Homo sapiens: one gene and its partners. The protein of the gene in region 2 interacts with the protein of the main gene of each other region in a pairwise test. Each region holds a gene or a part of one and is shown on either strand. Other genes may lie near its edges.

Evidence for each region.
Region 1: the proteins of LCA5L (region 2) and KRT81 interact in binary tests that used the Homo sapiens proteins (3 or more experiments, as listed by UniProt).
Region 3: the proteins of LCA5L (region 2) and IKBIP interact in binary tests that used the Homo sapiens proteins (3 or more experiments, as listed by UniProt).
Region 4: the proteins of LCA5L (region 2) and FCHSD2 interact in binary tests that used the Homo sapiens proteins (3 or more experiments, as listed by UniProt).

The regions. Positions count from the first base shown.
Region 1 is NC_000012.12:52,288,535-52,295,698, reverse strand, and holds the start of KRT81 (keratin, type II cuticular Hb1), read left to right. Parts: upstream 1-4,164; 5' UTR 4,165-4,233; coding exon 4,234-4,602; intron 4,603-5,412; coding exon 5,413-5,621; intron 5,622-6,423; coding exon 6,424-6,484; intron 6,485-7,164.
Region 2 is NC_000021.9:39,407,771-39,414,819, forward strand, and holds part of LCA5L (lebercilin-like protein), read right to left. Parts: intron 6,277-7,049; coding exon of another isoform or gene 6,034-6,276; exon of another isoform or gene 5,754-6,033; intron 4,033-5,753; coding exon 3,948-4,032; intron 3,168-3,947; exon of another isoform or gene 3,074-3,167; intron 2,598-3,073; coding exon 2,494-2,597; intron 2,327-2,493; coding exon 2,209-2,326; intron 908-2,208; exon of another isoform or gene 836-907; intron 148-835; exon of another isoform or gene 23-147; intron 1-22.
Region 3 is NC_000012.12:98,623,749-98,627,788, reverse strand, and holds the end of IKBIP (inhibitor of nuclear factor kappa-B kinase-interacting protein), read left to right. Parts: intron 1-1,022; coding exon 1,023-1,859; 3' UTR 1,860-3,540; downstream 3,541-4,040. UniProt on the Homo sapiens protein: Target of p53/TP53 with pro-apoptotic function.
Region 4 is NC_000011.10:72,887,308-72,894,356, reverse strand, and holds part of FCHSD2 (F-BAR and double SH3 domains protein 2), read left to right. Parts: intron 1-4,411; coding exon 4,412-4,528; intron 4,529-6,782; coding exon 6,783-6,887; intron 6,888-7,049. UniProt on the Homo sapiens protein: Adapter protein that plays a role in endocytosis via clathrin-coated pits. Contributes to the internalization of cell surface receptors, such as integrin ITGB1 and transferrin receptor.

The DNA of each region.
Region 1 (7,164 bases), on a different chromosome or scaffold from region 2:
TTTGTACACACTGATGTGCTGCAGGGTTTCCATTTTTGTTCATTATCTGGGTATGTGTCTCTGCTTTTCTCTTAATACTGGAAGCTTGCCAAGAACAAGGGTGAGCTCTCCTATACTCTCTGGCCCTGAACCCTGAGAGCAACCTGCAGGGCCCTGCAGAGGGCATGGGGCAAGATGAGTGTTTGTGTTTTTATGTTATGTACAAACACCAGCTACTGTGTGATACTTATTACTGATGGCCGATGGTGTACAGAAGGGAGTGCAATGGGACAAACGCATCCCTTCCTTTGGGATCAGACACACAGGCTCTGGGTTCCAGTTCTGCTACTAACATGCAACCTGAGCCTTAACCTCCCTAGACCTCAGTGTCCTCATCTATAAAACGAGAATAATAACACCAACCTCAGAGGGCAACTGTAAAAATTAAATGAGTTAATGCATGTTGGACTCTTAAAATAGTATCTAGTGTGGTATAAGATGAACATCAAAAGATTTTATTATTAAGTTTGGAAGAATAGTCATAAAATAGCTTTCTACATGAAACATCTACTACTGACATAACTTTAAAAAAAATAGCCACATACCCCAGAAAAACTCTTGCATAAATGCACCAGAAGACATGAGAAAGGATGTTCATAGCAGCTCTGTTCAATCTACAGAACTCTGGAAACAACCTTGTGGCTATCGAGGTAGAAAGGCAAATAAACTGTGGTATAGCCATGCAATGAGTGCAATCCACAGTGAAAATGAACACAGGACAGCTACAGGAAGCAACATTTAATGAAAGAAACCAGATGCACAAGGATCCATGCAACATGAGTCCATTTATGTGAAGTTCAAAAGCTGGAAAAAGAAACAATATGTCATTGCAAGATGGGTGCATTGGTTCTAAAACTGTAAGAAAAGCAAAGGAATAATTAAACACAAAATGCAAGAGAGGAGTCACCCTAGGCCAGGAAGGAGTAGGGTACAATCAGAACAAGGTACATAGGAAGCTCCTGAAATACACACATGTTCTATTTTTTCCTATAAGTGGTAGGTATTGCTACAGATCTAACCACCTATGCATTTTTTGTGTTGAAATATTTCACAATAAAAATAATTGTTATCTCCACAAAGTTAAAATCTATCCTCTTTACCTTGCCAGAGCCAAGACCATAGAGTGGAGATTCTGCCATCTTCCCTCCCCTCCTCCCTGCCACCTTCCCTCCCCTCCTCCCTTCCCCATGACAAGGTTTTTTCACTCTGAAGAAAACAAGTTGAATGTCCTTTTAGGTCTTCAAAAATTAGCAGCAATTAATTCCTGAAGTTTAATGAAATGGTGTCACATTTGAATTTTTCATATTCTTACATCTTTAAAATTGCTTAGTAAGGACCAGCCATTAGTAATTAGCTTGTGTTTATACATGTTGTTTTTATAAGGAGTTATACTGGTAGAAAAGGTGAAGTGTGGATGAGATGTACTTTGACTCACAGTGCTCCTCAGGACACCCAACCGCTGGTTTACTGGGGACATCACTGCTCAATTGTGAGCAGTGCCCCAAATTCCAGATGAGGGTACAAAGAGCTTCAGAAGTGCTGGCCCAGCAGCCCTGAACTCACAAAGGGACAGCAGGTGCCATACTCTTCTCTGGGGTGACCAGATAGCTCAACACAGTCTGTGACCTCCCACATTTGTCCTGCACAAGGCCACACTCTGAATGTTTTGCACAGATACCCTGAGAGCCCTATTCTCTTCTATTTTTTTCCTCTCCTCTCTTTTCCCATCAATCCTGCTTCTGTTCTCATTCCCTAAGTCTACTCTGCCTGCCTTTGCCCTTGAAGCATAGCAGCTCCAGGGGGCTATAAGCCAGGCCATTTCACTTCTCTTTTCTTCTCCTCAATTTAATGCAAACCTCTGTACTTTACGAGCTAATTTTTCTAGGACCTGCTCTATTGGAGTGGGGGGTGGTTCACTGGGTAAGTAGAACATAGTACAGTCTATCAAAGTATTGCCATATACCAGAGGTATGCAAATAACTAAAACTGATGTTTTCCACCCCGTCCTTCAATTCTTAGCCACGGGGTGCTGCACATCTAACTCATACTCCTTCCCAGCCCCCAAGTAGCCTCACATCGCCGTGTGTCCCTAAATGACCCCTCATGGTTCTAACCATCCCAATCCACTCTGACTCTGCCCGTCTTCCTTAGATGGACTCTCTCACACCCTAAATTCACAGATACTCCCCTGTAAACAACTTTCACTACCCTCTTGAACTTATCCAAAGATTAGGAAGTCAAGGGGTTGTCACAGCTTATAAGTGAGAAGGCAATGCAACTCCTGGCTCCATCACTTACCAGCTGGGAGACTTCGGGCAAGTTATTTAACCTCCCTGACCCTTGGTTTCCTCATCAGTAAAATGGGGATAATGGCACATACTTCATATGATTGATGTGAGAATTAGAGATCATTTACGATATATAATGATGATCACATAGTAGGTGACCAATTAAAAAGAAACATATTCTTATCAAACTAAGATCCATGTTTCTCTACACAGTTCTTTCTAATTCTAATTCTCTATACAGTTTTTCCTAATACAGGGGGAAATGTACTGAAGTGATCCAACCTCCATCTCCTGGGTTCAAGCAATTCTCCTGCCTTAGCCTCCCATGTAGCTGGGAATACAGGCACGTGCCACCATAACGGGCTAATTTTTGTATTTGTAGTAGAGACGGGGTTTCACCATCTCTGGTCTTAAACTCCTCCACTGAGGCTGGTCTTGAACTCCTGACCTCAGGTGATCCACCCCCCTCAGACTCCCAAAGTGCTGGGATTACAGGTATGAGCCACTGCGCCCAGCTGTGATTCAATTTAGCATCACCAATCTGACATTTTATGCTTCCTGGGGTGATATAATAAGAGTTACACAGCATATTTTATGAAGTATTCTGTCCCAACAATGTTTAATTTAAACCTAATCCAGCCTCTAGCCCAGTGCTGTCCAACAGAATTTTATGTGAAAATAAACAATAAATAAAATAAAAATAAATAATAAAGAAGTGTTCTTTATATGCACTGTCTAATAAGGTAGGCACTACTTACAGGTAGCTGCTGAGGACTCAAAATGTGGATAGTGCAACTGAATAACTAGATTTTTAACTTATTTAGTTTTTACTAACTTAAATTTAAGTAGCCACATCTGCCTATTGTCTACCAAATTGGACATCCCAGCTCAAGATTTACTTTCTAATTTATAGAAAATACAAGGGCTAGAGCCACAAATTAAATTATGTAAAATGTAGTTTTAAAATCCTTAGGACAGTTAGGAAAATTGAATCTGAGATGAATAGTAAGTGGTGCTTTGGAATTATTGTTAATTTTCCTGAATAAGAAAATAGTACTCTCCTTATTCTTAAGAAATTCCTGCTGATGTATTTAAGGGTGACATGCCATGCTTTCTGCCACTCAAATAATTGGGCAACTGTGAAAGCAAATATGGTATAATGTTAACTGTTGAATCGGGGTAAACAGGTGGAGCATCAATGCATGTGTGTTGTATTATTCCAATTTTCCTCAATATTTGAAAGCTTTCATCATAAAAAAGATAAAAGACAAATATTTAATAATCTGCTGACTGTTCCCATGGTAGGAAAAGTGAGATGGTTTTCAGCTGCCAACTGAAAAATCTGGAGATGGGGAAATCCAGATTTGTGTTTCAGGAGCACTTTAGCCACAGCTGTGATGGAAATGAGAGATGGTATTTATTAATGCCTCAGCCTTTCCTGAAACCCCTCTCCCCACATCACACTTAACACACAGGTCTCCTCCTCCCAGTTTCTCCCAGCACCTGGCCTCCCTTCTCTTCCCCTCGCCAGGCTCTACTCCTCCTTCTCGTCCTCTCCTCTGCCTTCCCCTTCCCTCCCCAATGCCTGCAGATGAAGGAATGCCCTGCTGGCAAGACACTTTGAAGATGAAACATGCTGACTCCCCCAGAGCCCAAGACTGACATCTTTTACAAAGAAGAGGGTGCAGGCCACTCCCCCATTAAAGCACATTCTGGAGAGGCGTTAGACCCGGCTAACCACCCAAGCCCATAAAGCGCAAATTGCCCCAACATCATCTTCACAGCCAAGCCCCTTCAGAATCTGCGCATAAATAGGGCTGCGGTGCCCTGAGGAGCACATTGGAGTTTCCATCAGGACTCCAGGTCCCCTATCCTGTCCTCTGCAACCCAAACGTCCAGGAGGATCATGACCTGCGGATCAGGATTTGGTGGGCGCGCCTTCAGCTGCATCTCGGCCTGCGGGCCGCGGCCCGGCCGCTGCTGCATCACCGCCGCCCCCTACCGTGGCATCTCCTGCTACCGCGGCCTCACCGGGGGCTTCGGCAGCCACAGCGTGTGCGGAGGCTTTCGGGCCGGCTCCTGCGGACGCAGCTTCGGCTACCGCTCCGGGGGCGTGTGCGGGCCCAGTCCCCCATGCATCACCACCGTGTCGGTCAACGAGAGCCTCCTCACGCCCCTCAACCTGGAGATCGACCCCAACGCGCAGTGCGTGAAGCAGGAGGAGAAGGAGCAGATCAAGTCCCTCAACAGCAGGTTCGCGGCCTTCATCGACAAGGTGGGTGTCCTGGATCACACCCTTCCTGAACCCCCACCACCTACACAGCCAGGGCCGGGCACTAAGGATGGAGTCAGAGGCACAAAGACCTCTGCCTGCCTGAGATCCCAGTCTGATGGGCGAGGCACACAGACACACAGACAGACAGACACATGCACAGACACACACACACAGGCACTCAAGATGCAGACTCAGCTGACAGTTCAGATAGAGGGAGCTTGTGAAGGAAAAGTGTGGCCAGGCTGCTCTGGGGCACAAGCTAGACATCAGGGAGTTGGGGGAGGGGGGCATGTGACCACTGCTGCTGAACTCAGAGGGGTTTGGGCAGCCCCAGGGTGAGAGAGTAGGGTGCACTGACTTCCAGATGACACAGGGGAAGGGCTGGGACAGCTGAGCTCCCTTCCAGATGGCCTGTGACACCCTCTTCCTGGCACCATCCCCAGAAACCTCATCTGTGATCTGAACCTGAGTACTCTGCCTGTGTGGGTTGCTGATCACCTAGTTTCATAGTGAGGGACTGAGCCTCCACTTCTGTTCATCTGCTTGGGTTGGGGGGGGGGGGTCACTCAACTCCCCAGGGAGCAGGCACTGACACCACCCAGCCCTTGCTCCACTCCTGAGTGGGAAATCTAGACACAGATCATGACCAGGAAATCCAGAAATTGTCTGTCTCCCACTGCCCACCTCTACTCAATCTCAGATAAGCTCCAGATTTGGGGGTTCCCATTAAAGCACCTCCCCTGCGAGCCCCCAGAGCTGGCTTTGGGGCACCAGACACCATCTGCCCCACCTTCCCACACCGAATGGCAGGTGCGCTTCCTGGAGCAGCAGAACAAACTGCTGGAGACAAAGCTGCAGTTCTACCAGAACCGCGAGTGTTGCCAGAGCAACCTGGAGCCCCTGTTTGAGGGCTACATCGAGACTCTGCGGCGGGAGGCCGAGTGCGTGGAGGCCGACAGCGGGAGGCTGGCCTCAGAGCTTAACCACGTGCAGGAGGTGCTGGAGGGCTACAAGAAGAAGTGAGTGCGGGCAAGAGGGATGCTGGGCACAGGAATGGGGTTTAGGTTAAATACACTGGATTAGACAATAAGAACTCCCAGGTAGGGTGAGTGGCCATGACCACTAGATTGACCGAGGGTGGCGGGGTCTTTTCCTTTGTGGAATCTTTGCCCAGACACCTGTGTAAGAGGAGGGCTGTGACTCCCATGACCTGTCTCTGTCCCACTTCAGCCTTCTCTCCCTGAACCACATCACCCAGCAGCTCTCCCCTGCGCTGGGTGGGGAGGAAGCCTCTGCAGGGTCCAGGCCTTCTCTCCTGACCCTCAGCCCCTATACTTGTAGCACCTGTCAGATGTGAGCCCAGGGTCTCTCATGAGTGACAGGTCTTGGGCTCTGGGTGTCCCACTGCCTTAGGTTCTAAGTCCTGAGGGTCTGCGGGTCCAGGAGGCCCCATACCTGAGCTGGGATTGATACCAGTGAGGGGAGGCTAGGGCTACAGGCCCTGAGAGTCCACGCTGTCCACTCCCAGGATGGGGCTGGGGGCTGAGTCCTATTTGCCTCCTGGGGGACCTCAGAGCCCCTTTGGGAACAGGACTGGGAGGTCCCAGATGAGCACTCTCCATCCCCAGTTCAAAGTGGATAGAGAATCCCAGACACATCCCACATCCAACTAGAAAGCACTAAGCTAGGCTGCCAGGCCGGGGCTGTGTGGAGGTGTTTCTAGTACTGTCCCCATGGCTGTGATGAAGTGTGATGTGATGGTGGCTCTGCAGAGACCTGCCCTGCCCTGACCTCCCCTCTCTTCCCTCTGCTCTGTCTCAGGTATGAGGAGGAGGTTTCTCTGAGAGCAACAGCTGAGAACGAGTTTGTGGCTCTGAAGAAGGCAAGTGACACAGGATTGAGAAGCACAGATCTGTGGGATCTCAGAATGACAGATTCTTCCTGGGGACACACAGGGGGTCTCAACCTCAGCGTGGGGCACAATGACCTTTCCACAGCAGGCTAGGACTGCCCAGATGCAGGCCTTTGTATTGAGCATCCAGGGCCTTGACAAAGGGCAATGACTTGGGAATATCTACCAGCACCTACCTTGGGCAAGGGGATGGCTGCACTGTCCTCTGTGTGTCCTGCTCTGTTCCAGAGGTTGTGGTCTATTGCTGAGGCCCCTGGAGCCATAGCAGATACAATGTCTCTGCTGAGAGACAGTGCAGTCTGTCTAGCATTTTGGGGAGTCTGACCTTGAGGCAGAGACACAATCCCAGGGTCTAAGGGGGGATGGAGAAGAACCAGGAGCAGCCACTGGGCTCTTGGAGCACTTGTGGGGGACAGGAAAGGGTCAGGGTGTGAGAGCTGGGGGGTCAGTCTGGGCAGGCTTCCTGGAGCAGGAGATGAGAGAAGGGAGAGACAGGAGGGCAAGGAGGGGTGAAAGGCTGGTGAGGCATGGTCAAGGCAAACAGGGTTTGTCATCAGAGGGACAGAGGATGCCAGCTCATCCCAGGAAGGGCAGAAGGGGAGGAAAGGCATGGGAATGGGACACCAGGGACTGCTTTCCCCTGGCTACAT
Region 2 (7,049 bases):
AATGAATGGATACACTTTCTAGGACACTATGAATTAGGACAATGGACTGAAAAATAAGCAGAAAATTTAAACACACCAGTGACCACAGTGCAACTGCAACTGACGATCAGTTTCCACCAAACTGCAACAGAGAGAGTGGCTTTGCCGGTGAGTTCTGTCAAACTACTGTGTTATTTAAACATTATTTGGCCTTACAACTAAGGTGAGGCCCTTGGGCCTCTACTGAAGGCCCAATGTGTTCAACAAGGGCTCTCCATGCTGCCTAAGGGAACACATCTGATTTGCAGCCCTGAATGAACTCTGGGACTCATTCATCATGCATGTACTTTCCTCAGAAGTTGCTCTTACCCAGCCTTGCGGGGCTGCAGCCAGATCTCCCACGAGTGGTAATGTAACATGAAAACAATGAGCCACATCTTCAAAATTCCAAAGGAAAATGACCCTCAACCTAGAGTTTCCTATCTAGGCAAGTATTAATCAAGTGTAAGGGCAGAATAATGACACTTCCAGATGAGAGGTATACAAATTTACCTTACCTGCACCCATTTACAAGAAGCTAGTGAAGGTTGTGCTCTTTAAAACATGATGGAATTTACCAAGAAAGAGGAGGACTTGGCTTAGGAAAGAGAAGATCCAGTAGAGAAGGGGAGTGACAGGAATCTGCAGGAAATGATGAAGGGCAATCCCAGGATGTTAGCTGCACACCAGAGATGAGGAGACAGACTAGGACCCCTGCTCCATTAGACCTCCAGGTCCCAAACACCAGGTGAGCCAGGGCCTTGGCCTGTCTTGCCCATGGCTGATGAAGTGTTGTACTCTCTATCAAACCCTGCAGTCTGGGCCAGCTGAGGACTCTCCTTGGAACCCAAAGAAGCAGTTTGTTTCCACCTACTCCCAAGAGCTGAAGGTAAGCTTTGGTGATCTTAGAATAGGAAAATCTGGGCAGCCCGTTCTCTTGGCCCTAGCTCTCTTGGGCCTGCCCAGAAGAGCTCTGCCAGATGCCATGGATCTGAGGGTTTTTCTATCTCCCAGGATGATTCAGGACCTCACCCACTGATTGGGCCCTTGTATATTCAAGGGAGCTGAAGCTGGGGTCCTTTTTCTGGAAGTCTTTATTCAAAAGTGGTAATATTGCCCTTTGCTCAGCTGGATTTGAATAATTTGCTACTCAGTTTTTCAAAGCTGAATATATTATTTAAGGATACTATTATGAAATGAATGTTTGTATTCCTTCCTCCCAAATTTCATATGTTGAAGCCGTAACCCCCAGTATGGCTATATTTGGAGACTGGGTCTTTAAGGAAGTAATTAAGGTTAAATGAGATCACAAGGTTGGGGCCTTCATGACGGAATTAGTGTCCTTATAAAAAGAAACACTGGAGCACTGGTGCTCTCTCCCCGACTCTCCTCGTGCGAGCACTAAGGAAACGCCACATGAAGACATAGTGAGAAGCGGGACATCTAAAGCCAGGAAGAGGGCCTTAACTGAAGCCAAATGCCTAGAACCTTGATCTCGGACTTCCTAGCCTCCAGAACCATGAGAAAATAAATAAGTGTTGTTTAAACCGGCAGTCTGTGGTATTTTCTTATGGCAGCCCAAGCAGACGAATGTAGCTACATATAAAGACAGGGAGCTGTGAGGGAAAGCAAGGGAATGACTGGCCTAAAACCCAAGACGGTGGTGGTTTCTGGTGGGCAGGGCGAGGGGATATGATTGTGAAGGGCCCAAGGGTGTTCCAAGGAGTACTCATCCACTGTTTCTTAAGCAGGCTACTGGGTACATAGGTGTTCCTTTCATTATAATTCTGGAAACGGTTTTATGTTTTTTTTTTAATTTTTTGAGACAGAGTCTCACTCTGTCACCCAGGTTGGAGTGCAGTGGCACGATCTTGGCTCACTGCAACCTCTGCCTCCTGGGTCCAAGCGATTTTCCTGCCTCAGCCTCCTGAGTAGCTGGGATTACAGGCACATACCGCCATGTGCGGTTAAGTTTTGTATTTTTTAGTAGAGATAGGGTTTCACCATGTTGGCCAGGCTGGTCTCAAACTCTTGACCTCAGGTGATCTGCCTGCCTTGGCCTCCCAAAGTGCTGGGATTACAGGTGCGAGCTGCCATGCCCAGCTGTTTTATGTGTGCTTTATATACACATATAGTAATTCACAATTTTAAAGAAATCAGATAAGATAGACTTTAAAGAGTTAAAATTACCTTCATATTTTCTCTTAGAATCCTCTTGCTTTGGTAGTTTATTCACACAGTGAGGAATTTCATGATTTATTTCAGTTGATTTTTCTTTATGATCGATGTTTCCTGTTGCCTTTTTACCCTGTAATTTAGAAAAGCAGCAAAAACACATTTTGGGGGGTCTAGATAACTTAAAATTGCATTTTATTCTAATGACTACAAATACTTTTCACATAGAACAAGTGACTGTAGCCTATTTTTGTTAAGACATGTTTAATCAGACACTGCAAGATTCCAAATTTGCTGTACCTTAGTTGTCAAAGGTGGAACATCTGATTTTTGGGTTCCCTGGTGTCTCATACTTGTGAATGGCAAAATTTTTCTGTCTGCTTGGACTGATTTTGTTGAAGAAACTATGGAACAGGTAGATTATATGTAAGAAACATATTTTACATTTGGATACAATATTGATTTTAAACATAAAATAACTTTTATGCAATGTAATAATAAAGTATACTAAGTATTTTCTAAATATTCAATATATATATAAGCATTTGTTAGTTTCCTGTTTTTCCCTCCAGGGCCCTTGCTTTGTCTTACTTTGGGCCTCACAGTGTTTGAGTATAAAACAAGTAGGTGTTAGGATAAGACATTGTTGCTGTTGGAGGACAAGGCTGTCCTTTGTGGATGGGATTCAGCAAGGTAGACGTGTAATTGTGAGAGGCCAGGCCACCGAGCTATCCTGTGGCGGAGCTCTTGATTATCAGTGGTTAGACTGTCCATGCTGAAGCGCATGACCACTAAATCTAGACTGCACTTTCCTGAAAAGTGAAGGAAATTATATCATTTAAACAACCCCTCGGTTGATTCATTGTCTCTATTATTCTAGATTATAAGCCAGAAGCAAACAAAGGCAGGCAAGGAAATTTGAGGTTGTTGCATCTGGAAGTAAACATGTAGCTACTTCTTCTAATAAAACAGAGGTGAGTATTCCTATGGTACTTCTGAGTCGAATCTGTTGCTGGGAGATTTTGGGGGGAAAGCAGTGCACGTGCTCTTGAAGAAAAGAAGACCTCACCAATGAGAGGTATACACTAATGATAGTGGCATCAATATAGATGAATCTCAAAAACACTATGCTGAACAAAAGCAGCCAGATACAAAAGGGTGCAGCTGTGGGATTCCACTTACATGAAATTCTAGAACAGACAACCTAGGCTATTGTGACCAAAGGAAAGTCAGTGGTTGCCTCGGGTGAGGTAGGGGACTACTGACTGCAGGGGACACGAGGAAACTTCCTGGGGAGGTGGAAATATTCAATATCTTGATTGGGGTGGTGGCTCCATCGGTATAAACATCTGTCAAAACCCACTGAGCTGCGTGCACACTTAAAATGGATGCATTTTATTGAGGTCAAGTATACCCCAATAAAGTTCATTTTGAAAAGCCATACACTGGCTAACAGATACACTTAGAAAGTTCACTTTTTGGCAGACATTTTGCTTCAAGCTGAAGTTATCCTTTTGCTCCACCTGAAGAAAGGACATAAAGGGGTGTGCTGAGGATGGGAGAACGGGAAAGCATTTCTATTCCTTGCTAGCCATGTCACCATCTCAGTCTCGTTATTCTTCTAGAATCACAAAATGTATTTTAATGCCTAATGAAGTGATTTTTGAAAATATCCATTATTTTGTCTATATAAATTAGGAAAATCTGACTAGATACTTAAAAATAGATTTTGAGCAAAAGTAATTAAAACATACCTTTTGGATAGTCCTCTGTGTCATGTAAATTTTTAAGTATTCGATGACTATAGATGTTTTTAATTTCAAGCTCACGATCCTTTTCCTAAAAAGAACCACAAAACCAATTTTTCTATAAATGCTTGCTTTTGTCAACCCTGATTTCTTTTAAAAACAATTTAAATGAGCTCAGTATCCTATGAATAAAATCTGTAGATTTTAGAAGAAACAGAAATAGGCCATATCATCCTATACCATTCCTGACATCGAAAAGTACTAGCTCTTTAAACAAAGTGACACATTATTGTGATCGGGACAGTATTTTTGAAGAGCCTTGCAGGTCAGCTTGTCCACTGTTTTCCTTCTGTCCTGTGGGCCTTGAAGTTTATGAAATATTCTTCTGTACTGTGCATTACAGTAGCCACTAACTATATGTTGTGATTTCATTTAAATGAAAGTAAAACTAAAATTTAGGTCGTCAGCCACACTATTTGTATTTCCAATAGGCGGTCAGCAGCTGTGTGTGACTAGTGACTACAGTATTGGATGGCACAGGTGAACATTTCCACCATCTAATAGAAAGTTCTATGAGACAGGGCTACGTCTAGACAAGGGCCGGGGGGGAAGCCTAGAACAAGGGTATCATTGTTCCATTTTAAATTTCATATTGATTTTTTTGAGTCTTGGCAAAACAGACATTTTGAAACCTTAACTTGTTGAGGAACAAAGAAAGGGTTTTTATTAAATATCAAATGCTCCTTCTTACATGTACACCAGGAGGCAAGAAAGGCTTTGGACTCAAGACCATTGAATTTTAGTAACAACCATGGTTAAGAGAGGTGGGCATATATGAAGTAAGGAGGAAGGAACCCAGGGATGTCAGAGTGTGACAGACGTGCATGTGCACACACACACACACACACGGGGGGTGGGGCGGGGAGAGAGAGCTCTTGTCTCCTTGTGCCCCTTAGGGTCAAATCTATGGGCCAAGGGATATTCAGGGGGTGAGAAACATCTCTGAGGTTTGGGAAAGTCTCAGTGCAAGAGGCCTTGGCGTGGTCCAGGAAAATTGCAAGCCCCTTAAAAAGCGCCTCCCCCGCCGCCCCATTCATCATGGAGCTAAAGTAACATGGTATTGCCCAAGTGTAAGTTAGAAAGGGCTAAATACCCTCTCTAGGCCAGAGATTGTGCTTCCCTTACCCTTGCAACCAGTGGGACCTGTGGAGGGAGCTGCACCTGCCCTGGAGTCCTTAAGGTTACAGATCCAGGTGCTCCCATAGCACAGGCTTTGCAACAGAGAATCTAGCCAGGGATCAGATGGAGGATGCATCTCAGAGCATTTGCATCAACAGTCAGCAGGGGACAATCACCAGGATTTATTTGACCAGACTGAGAAGAGGCCAGGAGTTTTAGCAGCCACATTCAGTACACATCAGACAGGGTCCTGGGAATTTGATTTAAGACTAGTCACTCGTCAGGAGAACCAGCTCTAGAGAGGGGCCAGAGGGCAGAACACAGACCAGAGGCCTCTTTTTCACTCCACCAAGAGTACACATATGTTTTCTCTCATGCCCAGGATGCCATCTCCACTGAGACAGAAGATAGGGATGAGGAAAAAGTCTGCAAGTCTAAGAGACAACCTAGCATAAGACTGTTTTGAGTTAGAAGAGACTGAGACAAGCTTTTATCCATTTCTTCTTGTCCAACTGCCATCCTCATCCCTAATTTGTGGGACTGGGGCTCATAAGGAAGTATGGCTTAGTTACAGAAAATAAAGAACATGACATATTTTTGTACCTGAATTGTACAGTGTAAATTTTCTACTCATTTGAATCATAAAATTAGTTTATTATCAGAGGTACACAAAGGGATAAAACATGAGAATATTAATCTTTTCTAGAATTTAAGTTTCTGGAGGCAAAAATGTTAACAGTTCATCTCTCTTTTCTTATTGTGGTAACAGCCAAAAGAACAGTAAATGCTGACAGTTCATCACCATGAAAAGTTGATCAGGTGTATTCTGGATAATAGCTTTCAGATGAAGGATACTGTGTAAAACATTTTAGAATGAGTTTTCATCCACACTGGTTAGGAAACATTTTCATGTTTACAGGGACACATTTTGATTACCTGAAAAATTCAGTTCTATCTTTTGATTTGGTCTGGACACCTGGAGGTCAGCAACCGAGAGCAGGAAGGAGGCACAGCAACAACAGAACAACAACAAGAGGCTGCGACAGGGGCGGCGTGGGTCAAAAGGAAGCAACCTGGAGGACGGTCCTCCTTGCGGCTTGGAGCAGAGCTTCAGGTTGGGCACCACGACAGAGCTGGGCCAGAAGTCTAACACAGCCTGTTTGGAACACAACCCGGGATACTTGTGTGGTTGGGTTCAGTCAGTCAAGGGAAACAAGAAGCTAACCCGTGGCTGGGAGTGTTCATGCAATGCTCGTGGAATACTCAGCGCAAAGCCTGCCCGCAAGCACAAAGGGTATCAAGGAAGAGTTAAATGGGAAGTTGGGTCATGGTGTGGAATCATATTAAGGTCAGCATTGATGGCTTCCGGAACTTAGATAGAAAGCAGTGTCTTAATGCAGGAGTGTGACCGTAGCCTGGGTGTAAGACGGGTGGCAGTACCTCACGTGGGAGCTGTGGAAGGCTGACATCCCTCTTCTTACTTCGGCTCATACTGCAGAAGTGGGCCTAGAACTCGGTGTGGGATGACTTTGAAAATGAGTTTCAAAGTAAAGAAACGAACTTTTGACCTTTGGGACCAGACTCTTCCAAGCTCAAACTATGACTTTCGTTAATGTGGCAGACTGTATTTTCCTAGAATTCCCACGACAAGATTTCTAGTCCTATATGCTCTTCAACAACCTCGTGACTCGCTACCAAAAGGTGGAGTTCACTGCTTGAACTGCCTAGGACTGCCCTGACAAATGCTGTGAGGCAGAAGTGATGCTGCGTGACTGCCAAGGCTAGGTCATAAAAGGCAGTACTGCATCTGTCTGGTTCTCTCCCTCTCTCTCTCTCTCTCTCTCTCTCTCTCTGTGTGTGTGTGTGTGTGTGTGTGTGTGTGTGTGTGTCTGTGCATATTTTACTTTGTGATTGTCTATGTTTGGTTTC
Region 3 (4,040 bases), on a different chromosome or scaffold from region 2:
TACAAAGTTGCAGTTTCTAAAAAGCCAAAAAACCATAAAAATGACATCGAGGGCTGGGCGCGGTGGCTCACGCCTGTAATCCCAGCACTTTGGGAGGCTGAGGTGGGCGGATCACGAGGTCAGGGGATCGAGACCATCCTCGCTGACACGGTGAAACCCCGTCTCTACTAAAAATACAAAAAATTAGCCGGGTGTGGTGGCGGGCGCCTGTAGTCCCAGCTACTCAGGAGGCTGAGGCAGGAGAATGGCTTGAACCTGGGAGGCGGAGCTTGCAGTGAGCCGAGATCACGCCACTGCACTCCAGCCTGGGCGACAGAGCGAGACTCCGTCTCAAAAAAAAAAAAAAAAAGAAAAAGAAAACTGACATCAAAGTTACTTACCATTAGAGTTAAAAGGAGGAAATTGCATCTATTTCAGGCACTTTAACATTACTTTTCTCTTGTATATGCTTCCATAGAAATGCTGAAATATCTAGGATTGTGTGTTCAGGTGTATTTTTTTTTTTTTTTAACATAGTGCTGGCCAGGCGCGGCAGCTCTCGCCTGTAATTCTAGTACTTTGGGAGGCCGAGGCAGACGGATCACTAAAGGTCAACAGTTCAAGACCAGCCTGGCCAGCATGGTGAAACCCCATCTCTACGAAAAATACAAAAATTAGCTAGGCATAGTGGCGCGTACCTGTAATCCCAGCTACTCAGGAAGCTGAGGCAAGAGAATACGTTGAACCTGGGAGGCGGAGGTTGCAGTGAGCTGAGGTTGCTCCACTGCACTCCATCCTGGGTGACAGGGTGAGATTCCGTCTAAAAAATAAATAAATAAATAAAACAATGCAGGGTTAACGTATTTGTGAAAACTATTAATGTAATAAATATCTTTGTCAGTCTGATTCTGATATACTTGGATATTTTAGACATCTTCAGAATTTTAACGTGGCATGTGTTATGCTCCTGATTGTTAAAGTGTGTTTCTCTAATATGAAAATTATTAAGTAGCCTTGGGAATTGTTTTGTGTTATAAATGCAGCTTGAGTCTACTGAAAGCATCCTGCAGGAAGCTACATCATCCATGTCTTTGATGACCCAGTTTGAGCAGGAAGTATCCAACCTCCAAGATATCATGCATGACATTCAAAATAATGAAGAGGTGCTCACTCAAAGGATGCAAAGCCTTAATGAGAAATTTCAGAATATTACGGATTTCTGGAAGAGAAGCCTAGAAGAAATGAACATTAATACAGACATTTTCAAATCAGAAGCAAAACATATACATTCTCAAGTAACTGTCCAAATTAACTCAGCTGAGCAGGAAATAAAATTGCTCACTGAACGGCTAAAAGATTTGGAAGATAGCACACTAAGAAATATTAGAACAGTAAAAAGACAAGAAGAAGAAGATCTCCTGCGAGTAGAGGAGCAGCTAGGCTCTGATACAAAGGCAATTGAAAAGTTAGAAGAGGAACAGCATGCCCTCTTTGCCAGAGATGAAGATCTGACTAATAAACTTTCCGACTACGAACCCAAAGTTGAAGAATGCAAGACACATTTGCCAACAATTGAAAGTGCTATTCACTCTGTTCTCAGAGTCTCTCAGGATCTGATAGAAACAGAAAAGAAAATGGAAGACTTGACTATGCAGATGTTTAATATGGAAGATGATATGCTGAAAGCAGTGTCTGAAATAATGGAGATGCAGAAAACCCTTGAAGGAATTCAGTATGATAATAGCATATTAAAGATGCAAAATGAACTGGATATTCTAAAAGAAAAAGTTCATGATTTTATAGCATACTCAAGTACAGGAGAAAAGGGAACTTTAAAAGAATATAATATAGAAAATAAAGGAATTGGTGGTGATTTTTAAATTCATGACATTTATTCTGATGAACCATATCATTATACATAAATTGATTAGTCCATTGATTTTGAGTTACTTTGATACGCCTCATCTTATCCTACATTATTGGAAAATAAATGAGATGTCCACACAAATGGATTATCCACATAATCAAAGCTTATCTTTTTAAGCACTAAAACTTACTTCATTGTAACTATTTGAAATAGAAATAGTTCTTTAAAAATATTTCTCTACTTTTAAAACAAGATACTTAATATTTTTAATGTTTTTTAAAGCATTAATGAACATCATCATTAATTTCACCTATTATATTGTACCCACATATATTGATGTCTCCAGGGGCTAATAAAGAGTATTTACCACTTCACTAAATGACCCCAATTTGCCATTTTCAAACCTATGTCTCATACCTTTTCTGTCACCTGAACTTACTGTCAGGTTGGTTGGTAATGTGCCTGCCTCAGCCAGTTCACTTTCTTAGGTAATTCACTGCAGGTTAAGAATCCACACAACCAAGTTCATGGGAATTTTGTGTAAAATAAAAGATAACATGCCTGAGGGAGAGCCTGGTGCCTTTGCTATGAATTAATATGCACTTTCTGAAAACTCTAAAGCCTGGGAAACATTTTAGTTTTTGTTAAGGTTCTAAACTGTGTTACAGATACTTGTAAGACTTTTAAAATCAGAGTAAGTATGTTCTTACATAAGGCCTTTCTTAGGAATTATGTGTATATAAATCTTTGAAATATCTTTATATACCTGAGTTTTAGGTTCCAACTGTGTTAGACATGAGTTTGCTAGATCCATGGTCTCTAGATGGTTTACTTAAATAGGCCAGGCGCAGTGGCTCACACCTGTAATCCTAGCACTTTGGGAGGCCGAGGTGGGCAGATCACGAAGTCAGGAGATCAAGACCATCTGGCTAACAGGGTGAAACCCTGTCTCTACTAAAAAATACAAAAAATTAGCCAGGCGTGGTGGTGGGTGCCTGTAGTCCCAGCTACTCAGGAGGCTGAGGCAGGAGAATGGTGTGAACCCGGGAGGCAGAGCTTGCAGTGAGCCGAGATCGCGCCACTGCACTCCAGCCTGAGTGGCAAAGTGAGACTCTGTCTCAATAAATAAATAAATAAATAAAAATAAGCCTGTGGCCTGTTTTGAGGGAAAAGTAACATAACTCTGATAATTAATTATGATAATAACTATGATAGTTAAAAATACGTCATTTTAAAGATTTCCCAAACCACACCACTAAATTTGTTTTATGAATTGATTTTATTTTATTTGAAATTATATAATGTAGTCAACTGCAATATGGAAGTTTGTTCTTGTTTCTTTGTCAATAACCTTACCAGTTTTATAATGCAGTTTTTGATGGAATTAAACACAAAGAACTTGAAAGCAGTCAGTTACAAAAAGGTAGTTGTGGTCAAGTAGTTTTAATATGTAAATTTGCAAGTTTTTGGAGAACCCCCAAACTCCTTCTCCACTGGAGTTAGGAGGGCCTGTGGTAGACAGCGTGAATCATGAAAATAAGCCTGGAGAGTTCTGTTATTAAGGGGCATAGCATTAATTTTTGCAGTCTTAAAATTACACTTCTTGACTTCTGAATGTCTCTTATTTGCGTGCACTGACAAAATTCTATTTGTTTACTTTTATATTAATGGTAATAAAATAGATTATAAAGTAAGCTGGAACTTTGTTGTTTTAACCTCCATCCTGTCAAGGCAAATGTGATCTCTTATCTTATATCCTTTACGTTTAAATATTTTTTTCTCACCGATCACCACATTTAATATGAGGTTATTATGAACTTATATATACCATGGTAATGGTTACTGAAAGTAAATGGAAACAAGGTGGCTACTGTTCTCTATAATGACACAAGGGAAAGGAAGAAAACTGCACTTCTACAAGTATAACATGAGAAAACTATTAAAGTATATATGCGTTTGTATGTATGTATAGATATCTAGATAGATATATCCTGTATTTATGAAGAGGTTTTCCTATTAAGAAATTATTAGAGAGATTTAGATGTACTTAATTTGTCTTTCTCTCTTTCTTCCATTCATTTATTTAACACAGATGCTTAAAATTTCAAAAACTTTCCTGTGTATCAAATATTAAATTACATTGTTAGTCTTTTCTTTAGGGAAAATTACCAATATCCTAAAACACATTTTTGTA
Region 4 (7,049 bases), on a different chromosome or scaffold from region 2:
CCCAGGCTGGTCTCAAACTCCTGGCCTCAAGCAGTTTTTCTGCCTTGGCCTACCAGAACACTGGGATTGTAAGTGTGAGCTACTGTGCCCAGCCCCAGTATATTTCTTGTCTCTCAGTAAACTGAAAAATGTAAGTAGTACAAATTCCCTGAATGAGGGTTAACTAGAATGTTATGCCATTGGCCTAACAACCCCAACACTATCTTTTTTTGAAATGGTTTGGAATGCTAGTATTTTACTGTTAGTGATTTTCATTCATCATACATGACCATCTCTTTTTCTCTCCTTGAAATGGTTATATTTTAGTTACAGAGTTAAAAAACTGATTGTTTTCTTCTGCGAAGTCAGCTTTTCTATCGCTGCTCACTCTGCTCAGATATCTGAGCCTTCTATGCCTTTGTATTAACCTTAAAATAAAACAAAATCATATCTTGAGAGAGCATCTAAGGACAAAATAGTTAAGATGACTTAAAGACTAATATATCAAGAATATTGGAATGCTGATTTCCTTAATTTAGTTCTTCAAAGTTATTTAATAACTTTATGAATGTTGAAAAGACTTTATTGTAATATTTTATTCTAAAGGGACTAGAGTTTTTTTTTTTTTTGGAGACAGAGTCTCCCTCTGTAGCCTAGGCTGGAGTGCAGTGCCACGATCTTGGCTCACTGCAACCTCCGGCGCCACCACGCCTAGCTAATTTTTGTATCAAATACATTTTTAAAAGATAAAGGAAAAATATTGGGCTGGGCATAGTGGCTCATGCCTCTAATCCCAGCACTTTGGGAGGTCAAGGCAGGAGGATCATTTGAGGCCAGGAGTTTGAGATGGCCTAGGCAACATAGTGAGATCTCATCTCTACTAAAAATCAAAAAAATTATCTGCGTGTGATGGCATATGCTGTGGTCTCAGCTACTTGGGATGCTGAGGTGGGAGGATTGCTTGAGCTTGGGAGGTCAAGGCTGCAGTGAGCCATGATTGCACCACCGCACTCCAGCCTGGGCAATAGAGTGAGAACCTGTCTTCCAAAAAGAAAAATGTTAAAAGAATGATCTAGGCCAGGCGTGGAGGCTCATGCTTGTAATCCCAGCACTTTGGGAGGCCAAGAACAGGTGGATCACTTGAGGACAGGAGTTCGAGACCAGCCTGGCCAACATAGCAAAACCCCCATCTCTACTAAAAATACAAAAAGTTAACTGGGCATGGTGGTACATGCCCTGTAATCCCAGTTACTCCGGAGGCTGAGGAATGAGAATCTCTTGAACCCGAGAGGCAGAGGTTGCAGTGAGCTAAAATCATGCCACTGCACTCCAGTCTGGGTGACAGAGTGAAACTCTGTCTCAAAAAATTAAAAATAAAAATAAATTTGCCAGCATTTTAAAAAGAAGCAGTCATTACGGTTTCTTTGTTAGAATCGACCACTGCTAATATCACTGTCTTAAAAAAAAAATTACCAGCCACGCACGGTGGCTCACACCTGTAATCCAAGCACTTTGGGAGGCCGAGGCGGGTGGATCACGAGGTCAAGAGATCGAGACCATCCTGGCCAACATGGTGAAACCCCGTCTCTACTAAAAATACAAAAAATTAGTTGGGCATGGTGGCACATGCCTGTAGTCCCAGCTACCTGGGAGGCTGAGGCAGGAGGATCACTTGAACCCAGGAGGTGGAGGTTGCACTGAGCTGAGATCATGCCACTGCACTCCAGCCTGGCCAACAGAGTGAGACTCTGTCTCAAAAAACAAAAAACAAAACAAACAAAAACACAAAAACATAATTATCTATACTAGATCCTGATTTATATTGATCTTTGATAGTGAAGGTGGTATTGGAACATTTCTCTGTGTATTGTTTAATAGCCTGGGCTGTATTCACCTTGTATGAAATTCTCAGTTGTCAAGACCTGTGTCTCAGGAGCTTCCACATGTATTCCATGGCTTGATTTCAGAATTCATGAAAAGGATAAATTAATTTGAGTTTTAGTTTTGTGTCATTCCCTACCCAAAGGATCTCAAAGCCACATCTTCCAATCAGTGGCATTAGTTACCTGTCCTGATCATTGGACTCCCAAGTCTTAGTAGACACATAAAAAATAAGGGAAAAGCTCTATCCTGAGCACAGTGAATACTCAATAAGAAGGTATAAATTCTGTAAGGCAAATTGGGTTATGGCCCATCTGCAGCCAGCACACAATTTAAACCCCTTTACCTATTCCTAAAATGCTGCTCAGTAACAAAAATTAAATGTCTCTATCAGTTGCCTCCTTTCTCATCTAGCTACTCCCTACAAATTCATTCTCTTTGAGATCTGCCTTAATCTTTCAATATATCTTCAATCTTCATTTTGGATTCATTGTTTAGGCTATTAAGAACCTAGGAATTATCTGGATTTTCTTATGAACAGTAATAAGAAAATTTTTGTTTCAAGTAATTTTCAATTGGGTCTTTAACATTAACAGTTACCATTACTGGATGCCTAAGATATTATGTAGATCCTATACCAGAATGTTTAAAATATGACCTCATTATAACCTACCAACCCTATGGAGATAGGTGACATTTTCACTAGTTTTCAGATGTAGCTACGACTCAGATAATTAACATGCCCAAGATCATAAAGCTAGTAGTGCCATAAAATGGCATACAATGGATTCAAACTAAGTCTATCTGACTCAAAAACCTATTCTTGGACTCTTCAGAATTTATCTTTCTACTTTTACAGATCACATTCCTCTGACTTTTGTATATTTCATTTGTATCTGTGTCCAGAGTTTAACACTTTAATATTCCTGACTTTGAGAACAGATGTAAGTTTGAATGCCCAGATTCATTTGCAAAGCAAAATATAATAGTAAAGTTCATTCCCAAACTTCTGATAACCCCAAAAATGAATTAGAATGTAAAATATGAATGTAAAGATGGTTAAGTTTGAATATTGATTATTTTGCTCTATTTCAATTTATTTGTCATTGTTATAATCTAGCTGAAATGTCTGTATAGAACAAAAATTTTTAAACCCTGCCTCATCACAATTCCCCCAACAAAAATATTAATTTTTAAAATCCAGTTTATCAATTTCTACTTACTCTATCAATTTTGAGCTATGAGACCTTGCAAAAGAATTACTAGGCCAGGTGTACTGGCTCATCCCTCTAATTTGAACACTTTGGAAGACCAGGGTGGGAGGATTACTTGAGCCAAGGAGTTCAAGATGTTGAACTCCTATGTTGCCTGGGCAACATAGTGAGACCTTATCTCTAGAAGGAAAAAAAAAAATGAGCTGAGTATGGTGACACACACCTGTAGTTCCAGCTACTCAGGAGGCTGAAGTGGGAGAGTCACTTGAGCCCGGAGGTTGAGGCTGCAGTGAGCCGTGATCAGAATTTCTAAAATTCTTTTCATTCTACAATTTTGCTGCTTTCTATATTAAAAGCCTCTTTGGGTAATTTATATTTTAAAAAAAATTCCTAATTATCTCAATAAAGTTTGTTTTTCTTGGGTCTTTAAGAATTTAGAGAGAATTAAAATAGTTTTGTGTTTAATAGCTCTGATTCTGGAATCGGTCAATTAAGGTTGTAACATTTAACATCTAGGACATCCAGGAAAAATTAACCTCTCTGAGCCTCTGTTTTCTTTTCTATAAAATGATGTGGGACCCACATCATCAGGTTGTTAAAAAAAAAAAAAGTTATATGAAGCACTTTCCATAGTACCTTGCACAATAGAAGTTAGCTATTACTATTTTTATTTAGATTTTGTGGTTTGTTCTTTGTAAATCAGAATCATAGCATTTTAGAGCTAGAAGAAACCCTTGGTGATCATTTGATCTAGCACCCTTATCTTTCATATGAAGCCTGGAGAAAGAGCAAAAGCTGGCTTTTGAGGTTTGGTGGCAAGTTGATGGTGGACCTCTAAAGAGTTCCGTCTGCCTTGGGGCAGGGGGAGGGGTGCAAGATTGTGTTGCTGTTATTATATTGTTTTGTTCTTACTTCTCTTTAATGATTCTTTACTCACATTTAAACTATTAAGTTGTTTCCATTTTTATTTATGCAATGATTTTATCACCATAGTAGGTTGGCATGAATACATTTTCTTCTTTGCTTACCTTAGCTAGCTTCCTTCCCACTCGGAAAGATAAGTCCATCACACCCAAAAAGATAAGTCTGCAGTATTATAGATGATGCTTTTGTGTTCAGCAGTGTAAGACAAAAAGCTTATGGTCTTTAATGGTTTTATGCTGATCTTACTCTTCTGGTAACTTTCTGTGACGTTAAGACATTGCTTCCAGCAGTAGTGGAGCGTGCCTCATGTTTTGAGTGCTGATTAAGTGAAGGCCTTCTGATCCATCTACAAAGCAGTAGTGGTTACAATAAGGATAGCAATATTTTTATCTCTGTTCTCTCTTGTATTGTAGAGCCGACAGTTAGAATCAGAAACTGGGACCACAGAGGAGCACAGTCTAAATAAGGAAGCTCGAAAATGGGCCACACGTGTGGCACGTGAGCATAAAAACATTGTTCACCAACAACGGGTAAGTGTAAGAGAAAGTCCTAGTTACATTCACCTTAAGCCAAATGTCAAACAGTTTAAGGAACTGAGTTTTATTAATGTGAAAAATATCCTATATGTGTTGTTTTGTTTTATTTGAGACAAGAGGCTTGCTCTGTCACCCAGGTTGAAGGGCAGTGGTGTGAACATGGCTTACTGCAGCTTCAACCTCCTGGGCTGAAGCAGTTCTCCCACTTCAGCCTCCCAAGTAGCTGGGACCACAGGCACATGCCACTATGCCTGGCTAAATTTTTTTAGATTTTTTGTAGAGATAGGGTCTTGCCATGTTTCCCAGGCTGGTCTCAAACTCCTTTGCTCAAGCATTATATGTGTTTTTTCTGTACTTTCTCAACACTCAGCAGTGTGCTGTCAGCTATCTACTCATGTTGGAATTTCCTTAAGCCCTCCATCAGCAATACATTAATTTACCTGTTTACCATAAAATTAACAAAGAAAATTGTGATAGTGTATTATGGGCAGGGGAAGAGACATATGTTGAATTAATATAAGTTTTCATCCCTCAAGACATATTTTTTAAAAGACATAATTATAGCCGGGCGCGGTGGCTCACGCCTGTAATCCCAGCACTTTGGGAGGCCGAGGTGGGTGGATCACAAGGTCAGGAGATCGAGACCATCCTGGCTAACATGTGTTACGGTGAAACCCCATCTCTACTAAAAATACAAAAAATTAGCCGAGTGTGGTGGCGGGCACCTGTAGTCCCAGCTACTCGGGAGGTTGAGGCAGGAGAATGGCATGAACCTGGGAGGCGGAGCTTGCAGTGAGCTGAGATCACGCCACTGCACTCCAACCTGGGCGACAGCGAGACTCTGTCTCAATAAAAAGAAAAAAGAAAGACACAATTATAGATTTCATGAAAATATATGTTTGGCTGGGCGCAGTGGCTCACGCCTGTAATCCCAGAACTTTGGGAGGCTGAGGCAAGTGGATTGCTTGAACCAGGAGTTTGAGACCAGCCTGAGCAACATGGCAAAAAACCCGGTGTCTACAAAAAATTCAAAAATTAGTCGGGCATGGGGGCGCACACCTATCTTCCCACCTATTCGGGAGGCTAAGGTTGGGGAGAATTGCTTGAGCCCGGGAGGTGGAGGTTACATTGAGGTAAGATCATGCCTCTGAACTCCAGACTGGGTGACAGAGAAAGACCCTGTCTCCAAAAAAAAAAAAGAAAGAAAGAAAGAAAGAAAATATATCTCGAAGACTAAACTCTAAGCACAAAGAAATTATTTGGAGTATAGTACTTTTTTTCTGTTTCATTTATTGATACCTATATCCGTCTCATTCTTTGCCTTCACATCCTGCTTCTTAAAAGAATTGCCTATGCTTATTATCTATAGAATCTCACCTCCCACTTACTTTTTAGCCCATTACATTTGAGCTTTCCTGTCCTTTCCTTCCCCTGTCTAAGCTTACCAAAATCGCCAATGATGTCTGTGTTGCTAGCTTCCAAGTGGACACTTTGATTTCTCATTTTTCTTAATCTGTCAACAATTTCATCACAATTAACAATTCCATGTCTTAAAATGTTATCTTCTCTAGTCATCCACGATTCAACATTGTCCTGGCTTTCCTTCTGCCTTTCTGGCCATACCTAGATTTTTTCATGGGTTCCTCTTTCTCCATCCCACAATGAAATATTCAGTTTCTCAGATTCCTATACTTGGCTATCTTGTTTTCTTATTCTTTACCCTCATATAGGCATTCTCAGTCACTTCCATGGTTTTACTTTACCACCAAATCATAAATTAACATCTTCAACATTGGGCCTTGCTACTACTGTGTATCCATATAATCTCTTGCCTGTTTTGACATCTTCTTTTCACTATCTCACAGGTGTCTCAAATTCAGTGTTCCACTTATGTAATGTTGCTTAACAAACCACCTCAAACTTAATGCCATAGAACAAGAGGGTTTTTACATTATCTCTCACTAATCTGAGTATTGGATGGTCTCAGCTTAGCAGTTTCCCTTGGGGTCTCTCATGTGGCGGCAATCAGATAGTGGCTGGTCCTGGCTTCCCCACTGAAGGGACTGTCTGTAGTAAGTTTGTTACTAGTAAGTCTATAATTATTTCAAAATGTTCAAAAAATAAATAAATGAAAAAAAATTATGGCTACTAGTCACTAAAGCCCTTTGAATTATGTAAATACTTTAATCACTTAAGGAAGATGAAAAGTAAAAAACAGTCATCATTATTGTCCCATTTTCTTTAATAGGTTCTAAATGATCTGGAGTGTCATGGAGCTGCTGTATCAGAACAAAGCCGAGCAGAGCTAGAACAGAAAATAGATGAAGCTAGAGAAAATATTCGTAAAGCAGAGGTAAGGTGGCAGCTAATTGTGGCATTTTGCCCAGGTCTAATGACACTGTCACAGCTGTGATATACATCTTTAAAACTGAGTTTCTACACACACTGAGATGAAGGTGATTCACCGTCTTCATTCGTGTCCACAGTAGTATTTGTTGAGTACCTGCTCTGTGGA